Linked DNA regions of Homo sapiens: region 2 is linked to region 1. The links come from fine-mapping of genetic effects on gene expression. A gene starts in region 1. The other region holds a variant in brackets. All regions are shown on one strand. Distances are from middle to middle.

Region 1 (4,387 bases):
AATCCATCTCAAATTAATTTTTGAATATGGTGTGAGGTAGGGGTACTTATTCCTTTTATTGAAAAGACCATCCTTTCCTCAATGATTTCCAATGCGTTCTTGACCCTATAATTAGAATTAACTTCTGTAAGCACTCATTAGATCGTTCCACTTTCCTGCCTGTCTTTAACGGCAGACCATTGCTCTTATGGACAATAATCAGATAATGGTCAGTTCCTTGCGTAACAATACGCAGCTTGATCTGGCCACCTCCTGTCTCTCCTGCCAAATCTTGCCTTGTGTCTGCCTTTCCACTCTGAACATAGAGTTCTTTGGACAGGTCACACCCTCATCCTCAAGCCCTTCCCATATAGAGTGTTTTCATGCCCTTAGACTAGTTACTCAAACTTCAGGTCTCATCTCTTCCAGGAGCCTTCTCAATAGCACAGTCCCTGTCCCTTAAATATAGGTTGTGTGACTTCTATATATGCATTCATGGTCAGGCACAGTGGCTCATGCCTGTAATCCCAGCACTTTGGGAGGCCGAGGCAGGCAGATTACCTGAGGTCGGAAGTTCGAGACCAGCGTGACCAACATGGAGAAATCCCGTCTCCACTAAACATACAAAAATTAACTGGGCGTGATGGTGCACACCTGTAATCCCAGCTACTCGGGAGGCTGAGGCAGGAGAATCACTTGAACCCGGAAGGTGGACGTTGCAGTGAGCCGAGATTGCGCCATCGCACTCCAGCCTGGTCAAGAAGGTGAAATTCCGTCTCAAAAAAAAAAAAAAAAAAAAAAAAAATATATATATATATATATATATATATATATTCGCTCATTGTACCCCCGAGTTTCTAATTATATTTATTTATTTTATTTTTTGAGATGGAGTCTCACTGTGTCGCCCAGGCTGGAGTGCAGTGGCATGATCTCGGCTCACTGCAGCCTTCACCTCCTGGGTTCAAGCAATTCTCCCATCTCAGTCTCCTGAGTAGCTGGGATTACAGGGCCGTGCCACCACAACTGGCTAATATTTTACATTTTTCCTAGAGACAGGGTTTCACCATGTTGGGCAGGCTAGTCTCAAACTCATGACCTCAGGTGATCCACCTGCCTCAGCCTCCCAAAGTGCTGGGGTTACAGGCGTGAGTCACCATGCCCAGCCTATTTTATTTTACTTTTTAGATGGAGTCTCACTCTGTCGTCCGTCCAGGCTGGAGTGCAGAGGTGCAATCTCGGCTCACTGCAACCTCCACCTGTGGGGCTCAAGCAATTCTCCCACCTCAGCCTCCCTAGTAGCTGAGATTACAGGTGCCCACCACCATACCCAGCTAACTTTTGTACTTTTAGTAGAGACGGGGTTTCACCATGTTAGCCAGGCTGGTCTGGAACTCCCGACCTCAGGTGATCCACCCGCCTCAGCCTCCCAAAGTGCTGGGATTACAGGTAAGAGCCACCACACCTGGCCTTCTATTTATATTTAAATATCTCCCCATTATAACTTCTCTGAGGGAAAGGAGGAGGCCTATTTAGTTCACATGAGAGGTGCGTCCTAAATACTGTTGAATGAATGAATAAATTTAAGGGACGATTCTGTCCCAGGAACCCAGACAGTATGGACCTTGGAGAAACAGGACGTTTCCAGTCTCAGATCTAGCACTTGGCTAATAATTATTTCTGAGCCTCGATTTTCAAATCTGTAAAATTAAGATATACTATTCTCTACTTAGGATTGTAATGGGCATCAAATAAGATAATGTGGCTGGGCACAGTGGCTCACATCTGTAATCCCAGTACTTTGGGAGGCCGAGGTGGGAGCATCACTTGAGGCCAGGAGTGCGAGACCAGCCTAGGCAACAGAGTAAGACCCCCCCCGCCCCCACCCCATCTCTACAAAAAACTTAAAAGTTAGCAGGGTGTGGTGGCATGCATTTGTGGTCCCAGCTACTTGGGAGGCTAAGGTGGGAGGATCGCTTGAGCCTGAGTTTGAGGCTGCAGTGAGCTGTGATTGAGCCTCTGCACTCCAGCCTAGGCAACAGAGCGAGACCTTGTCTTTCAAAATAATAAAATGATAAGGTAATGCGCAGAAGCATTCAGCACAGTGATTGGCACATGGAGGGCCCATTGGGGTGTTTTTGTTTTTGTTTTTGTTGTTGTTTGAGACAGAGTCTCGCTCTATGGCCCAGGCTGGATGGATTGCAGTGGCATGATCTCGGCTCACTGCAATCTCCGCCTCCTGGGTTCAAGCGATTATCTTGCCTCAGCCTCCCGAGTAGCTGGGATTACAGGCGTACACCACCAAGCCCGGCTAATTTTTCTTGTATTTTTAGTAGAGACGGGGTTTCACCATGTTGGCCAGGCTGGTCTCGAACTTCTGATCTTAGGTGATCCGCCCGCCTTGGCCTCCCAAAATGCTGGGATTACAGGCCACCGTGCCTGGCCATTGAGTGTTATTAAGAGGAGGGTACGCAGAAAACAGACTCCCGCCAGCTCTGCCCCATGCGCATGAGCGGCCGCCGCTCGCCCTCAGCCAGGCCCAGCGCGCCCCGACGCGTCCCCACGCCTGCGTGATCCACCGGAACCCAAGCCCAGGCAGGCGGTGAGAGGGCGGGGCCTCCGCAGTGCGACTGCGCCGCTCGAGGCCGTGCGTCGCGGGGGCGGGGCCGCGCAGGCGTACCGGGTGCCCCGGCTCTGGAGCATAAACAAGAGCGGGGACGGGATGAGGCGGCGGTTGATCCCAGGGTGGCGAGTGGCGGCGACCGAGGCGGCGAGCGGGGCCCGGCGCCGACCCTGAGTGCAGCCTGACCCGCCCTCGCGCGCGCGCCCTCCCCGGCCGGGCCCACTCGCCGCGCGCCCAGCCATGAACCTGGCGAGCCAGAGCGGGGAGGCCGGCGCCGGCCAGCTGCTCTTCGCCAACTTCAACCAGGACAACACGTAAGGCCGGGGTCGGGGGTCGGAGTCGGGGTGAGGCCAGGGTCGGACCCGGGCTAGGGGGAGGGCCTCGCTGCCAAGCTCGGCGGCGTCGCAGGCTCGGCCTCCCCGCGGGCCAAGGCGCGCAGAGGCGTCCCCAGGGGCGGGCCCGGGGCGTGCAGGGAGGGGCGCCCTCCAGGGAGACCCTCGGGTGCTGGCCTGGAGCTGCGGTCCCGGAGCGGGAGAGGTGGTGGAGAGGGGGCTGCTTTCACCCTCTTGCGGGGAGGCCCCCTGGCTTCAGACTTAACTACTTCTCGCAAAGTTGGGGCCGAACTTTGGGGCTTGACTTGTCTTGGCCGCCTGTGGAGCGCTGGGTGTGGGTCGCTTCCTCTCCTCTCGTCTCCTCTTCCCGCTGCTTGCTCAGCGTCTCCCACTCACTCTCCTTTGAATCAGGCCCTTCTCCTTGTCTTTTCATCGTCTTAAGACCCTTCTCTCTCTCTTGATTTTCTTTTCTTCGTTTCTCACTGTTTTTTTGTTTGTTTTTGTTTTTTGGGGTTTGTTTTGTTTTGAGACAGAGTCTTGCTCTGTTGCCCAGGCTGGAGTGCAGTGGTGCCATCTCAGCTCACTGCAACCTCCGCCTCCTGGGTTCAAGCGATTCTCCTGCCTCAGCCTCCCGAGTAGCTGAGACTACAGGCACGCGCCACTGTGCCCAGCTAACTTTTTTGTATTTGTAGTAGAGACAGGGTTTCACCATGTTGGTCAGGCTGGTCTCAAATTCCTGACCTCAAGTGATCCGCCCACCTCAGCCTCCCAAAGTGCTGGGATTACAGGTGTGAGCCACCGTGCGCGGCCCTCCCTGTTCTTTTTGGGACATCAACTTTGATGTCTTCTCCAGCAAGTAACAAACTTAGCAATAACCTTGGCATCTGACCTAGCTAGGGAGAAACTGAGCCAAGAGAGGCGTTACGGACCAGTGCCCCAGGAGTCTCAGAGCTCCAGCGGGTGGGTCATCCTCAGGGCAAGAGAAGGCCTTAATGCCAGCCCGTGCATTCGGAACGCTGTTTGTCCCCACTGATACGGGTTGGATGCTGCCTGGGAGGAGGACTTGTGGGGATGGTTAATAGATGAGCGAGCTTTCTGGAGAGAGAAGGGTGAGTTATGGGGTTGGCAGGGAGGAGAGCCATCTTGGAAGTGAGTAAGAGGAAGTGAGGAAAGAGAAGGAGTGGGGCATTTGGCATCTTACTAAGTCATTGGTTGAGTTGTTACTGGCTGAGTGGAATTAACATAGCAGAAGGTAAGATTCTTTAGGAAATTAAAAGTGAATTGTAGAATGGACAACACTCAGTGGGTGGTGTACAGCAGGCACTCAATAGCACCTCCCCAAAGCTGTGAAGACAGTCGCACAGTGGGACTGTATTGAGAGTCGGAAGGGGCAAATCACCTCATCCAACTACAGATGAGGAAATCCTTCCGAAAGGCTCCAAGCTGGTCTGGG
Region 2 (4,387 bases), 40 kb before region 1:
TTGTATCTGGTTTCCTGGATCAAGTTTGGACATCAGTAATTGGAGTCCTTTGCACATTCAACTACATAGATTTCTAACTTGTGGTAGATTCTACCTGTGGTTTCTACCGTGTGGTTCTAGAGAGAATTATCAACACTAGGCCGGGCGCAGTGGCTCATGCCTGTAATCCCAGCACTTTAGGAGGCCGAGGCAGGCAGATCACGAGGACAGGAGTTCGAGATCATCATGGCTAACATGGTGAAACCCTGGCTCTACTAAAAATACACAAAATTAGCCAGGTGTGATGGTGTAGGCCTGTAATCCCAGCTGCTCAGGAGGCTGAGGCAGGAGAATTGCGTGAACCCAGCAGACAAAGGTTGCAGGGAGCCGAGATAGCACCATTGCACTCCAGCCCTGAGCCCACAGTGTGTGACTCCATCTCAAAAAAACAAAACAAAACAAAAAGAAAACAAATAAACAGTAGAAATCATCTCCATAAAAATGATTCATTTACAAATCTTGTGGGTGGAGACTCTTTTCAGAATAATCCTTTTGGGGCCAGGCACAGTGGCTCACACCTGTAAACCCAGCACTTTGGAAGGCCAAGGTGGGTGGATCACCTGAGGTCAGGAGTTTCAGACCAGCCTGACCAACATTGCGAAACCCCGTCTCTACTAAAAATACAAAAATTAGCCAGCAGCTCACGCCTGTAATCCTAGCACTTTGGGAGGCCAAGATGGGCGGATCACCTGAGGTCGGGAGTTTGAGACCAGCCTGACCAACAGGGCAAAACCCCGTCTCTACTAAATATACAAAAAAAATTAACCACGTGTGGTGGCGCATGCCTGTAATCCCAGCTACTCGGGAGGCTGAGGCAGGAGAATCATTTGAACCCAGGAGGCGGAGGTTGCAGTGAGCCAAGATTGCACCACTGCACTCCAGCCTGAGCAACAAGAACGAAACTTCATCTCAAAAATAAAAATAAAAAAATAAAAACATTAGCTGGGCGTGGTGGTGGGCCCTGTAATCCCAGCTACTCAGGAGGCTGAGTCAGGAGAATTGTTTGAAAGAGAATCACTTGAATCCAGGAGGCAGAGGTTGCAGTAAGCCGAGATTTCGCCACAGCACTCCAGCCTGGGCGACAGAGCAAGACTCTGTCTCAAAAAAAAAAAAAAAAAAAAAAAAATTATATATATGCATATAAAAGAATAATCCTTTTGGGGTTTTACGTCATTTGTTCCTTTCTTCCTCTTTAGGTCATTTTGGTTATACATATTTTCTTCCAGATTGTCCTTTAATCAGGACATGTTTTTAACTCAGATATTTGTTATGCCTATTACTTTTTCAAGATTTCTCTACAAATTTGTATTTTAGATCAGTGGGGAAAAAATACACTATGTAGACCCTCAAACACCATGGGTTTGAACTTCGAAGGTCCACTTATATGCAGGTTTTTTTTTCTTCAACCAAACACAAATAGAAAATACAGTATTTGAGGGATGTGAAACTCAAATAAATACAAGCCCAACTTTTCATATACACAGTTCCGCAAGGCCAACTGTGGGATTTGAGTATGGCAGATTTGGGTATGAGGGTGATATGGTTTGGGTCTGTGTCCCCGCCCAAATTTCATGTTAAATTATAATCCCCGGCTGGCCGCGCTGGCTCACACCTGTAATCCCAGCACTTTGGGAGGCCGAGGCAGGTGGATCACCTGAGGTCAGGAGTTCGAGACCACCCTGGCCAACATGATGAAACTCCGTCTCTACTAAAAAAACAAAGATTAGCCGGACATGGTGGTACATGCCTGTAATCCAAGCTACTTGGGAGGCTGAGGCAGGAGAACTGCTTGAAGCCGGGAGGCAGAGGCTGCAGTGAGCTGAGATTGCACCACTGCACTCCAGCCTGGGCAACAAAGCAAGACTCCATCTCAGGAAAAAAAAAAAAAAAAAAAATTATAATCCCCAGTGTTGGAGGTGGGTCTGGTGGGAGGCGATTGGATCATGGGGGTAGGTTTCCCCTTTCGTGCTGTACTCGTGAGAGTGAGTGACTTATCATGAGAGCTGGTTGTTTAAAAGTGTGCAGCACCTCCCGTCTTTCTCTCTCTTCCTCCTGCTCTGGCCATGTAAGACATTCCTGCTTCCCCTTTGCCTTCCGCCATGACTGTCAGTTTCCTGAGGC[C/T]TCCCCAGCCACGCTTCCTGTACAGGCTGCAGAACTGTGAGTCAATTAGACCTCTTTTCTTTATAAATTACCCAGTCTCAGGTAGTTCTTCATAGCAGTATGAGAATGAACTAATACAAAGGGGTTGTGTCCTGGAACCAATCCCCTCCAAATATGAAGGGCTGACTTTATTTTATTATGGTACAAAGGCTAGTACAGTGGCTCCCACCTGTAATCCCAGCACTTTGGGAGGCCAAGGTAGGAGGATCGCGTGAACCTGGGAGCTTGAGGCTGCAGTGAGCTATGATCACACCACTGCACTCCAACCTGACCAGCAGAGCGAGACCCTGTCTCAAAAAAAAAAAAAGTAATAATAGGCTGGGGGAGGGGGCTCATGCCTGTAATCCCAGCACTTTGAGAGGCCAAGGCGGGCGGACCACAAGGTCAGGAGTTCAAGACCAGCCTGGCCAACATGGTGAAACCCTGTCTCTACTAAAATACAAAAATTAGCTGGGTGTGGTGGCAGGCATCTGTAATCCCAGCTACTAGGAAAGCTGAGGCAGGAGAATTGCTTGAACCCAGGAGGCAGAGTTTGCAGTAAGGAGAGACAGCGCCACTGCACTCTAGCTTGGGCAACAAATTGAGACTCCCTCTCAAAAAAAAAAAAAAGAAAAGAAAAAGTAATAATAAATGGTTGAAAATGTTTTCCTTCCCAATAAATTCATGGTTGCTATGAAACAGTAGCAAAAAAAATTAAATTCCTATATCTATTTTTAGAGAGTTTTCCAATAATTTCTCTTTTATATTGATTAGTGTCACCAGAGATTTGTCTATCACTTGTTTATTTTTCCAAAGATAAAATCTTTATTATTTTTCCTATCTTCCCTAGTAAGAGAGAAAATAAAACTCTTACAGCTATCATCTTCTAATATCAAGATAACATGAAAACTCCTGTAAAATGAATGGGAAGGGGAATATTCCAACTCTAATTACAAAATGAGAGCTAAGAACGTATGCAACTATATTATTTAGGACATGGATAAAACTGCTGTAATAGAGCTCCCAAAATAAAAGTGCTCTAAAAATTACTGATAAAGCCGAACGTGGTGGCTCATATCTGTAATCCCAGCATTTTGGAAGGCTGAGGTGGGTGGATCACTTGAGGCCAGGAGTTCAAGACCAGCCTGGGCAACATGGTGAAACCCTGTCTCTACTAAAAAATACAAAAATTTGTCGGAAGTAGTGGCTCATGCCTGTAATCCAGCACTTTGGGAGGCCGAGGCAGGTGGATCCTGAGGTCAAGAGATCAAGACCACCCTGGCCAACACGGTGAAACCCCGTCTCTACTAAAAATGCAAAAATTAGCTGGGTGTGGTGGTGCGCACCTGTAGTCCCAGCTATTCAGGAGGCTGAGACAGGAGAATCGCTTGAACCCAGGAGGCAGAGGTTGCAGTGAGCCAAGATCACACCACTGCACTCCAGCCTGGCAAGAGAGCAAGACTCTGTCTCCAAAAAAAAAAAAAAAAAAATTTGCCAGGTGTGGTGGTGCACACCTGTCTGTAGTGCTAGCTACTTGGGAGGCTGAGGCAGAAGGATTGCTCGAACTCAGAAGGTGGAAGTTGCAGTGAGCCAAGATCATGCCACTAATCCACAGCCTGGGCAACAGAGTGAGACTATCTCAAAAAAAAAAAAAAATCACCAATGATTATTTCTCATTAAAAAAATCCATGTGACTCCGAAGGAGTCAGAAAACTAGACTCCTAAATGAGTGCTCTAGCTGGGCTTGGTGGTTCACACCTGTAATTCCAGCACTTTGGGAGCCTACGGTGGGAGGATCGATTGAGCCCAGTTCAAGACCAGCCTGGGCAACATGGCAAGACATCATCTCTAAAAAACTTTTTTTTTCTCACGCCTGTAATCCCAGCACTTTGGGAGGCCAAGACGGGTGGATCACGAGGTCAGGAGATCGAGACAATCCTGGCTAACACGGTGAAACCCCGTCTCTACTAAAAATACAAAAAATTAGCCGGGTGTGTTGGCAGGCGCCTGTAGTCCCAGCTACTCGGGACAATGGCGTGAATCCAAGAGGCGGAGCTTGCAGTGAGCCAAGATCGCGCCCCTGCACTCCAGCCTGGGCGACAGAGCAAGACTCCATCTCAAACACAAACAAACAAACAAAAACACCCTTAGGTAATGATCACCAATGACTGCTGACATCTTTTTGAAAAAAAAAAAATAAGAAAACCAG

The links.
Region 2: its variant is fine-mapped to the expression of WIPI2 in whole blood (INTERVAL, PIP above 0.99). The same link has a PIP of 0.9 or more in monocytes.

Annotation. Positions count from the first base shown.
Region 1 is chr7:5,187,578-5,191,964 of GRCh38, forward strand. It overlaps WIPI2 (WD repeat domain, phosphoinositide interacting 2), which reads left to right and starts at 2,656. Exons shown (of 13, transcript NM_015610.4): 1 at 2,656-2,916. The coding sequence starts at 2,843. RefSeq lists silencers at 2,441-3,090, 3,101-3,150.
Region 2 is chr7:5,147,417-5,151,803 of GRCh38, forward strand. No RefSeq gene overlaps it. Among named protein-coding and RNA genes, the nearest start is that of WIPI2, 41 kb to the right of the region's middle. The variant C/T (reference allele first, on the strand shown) is at 2,161.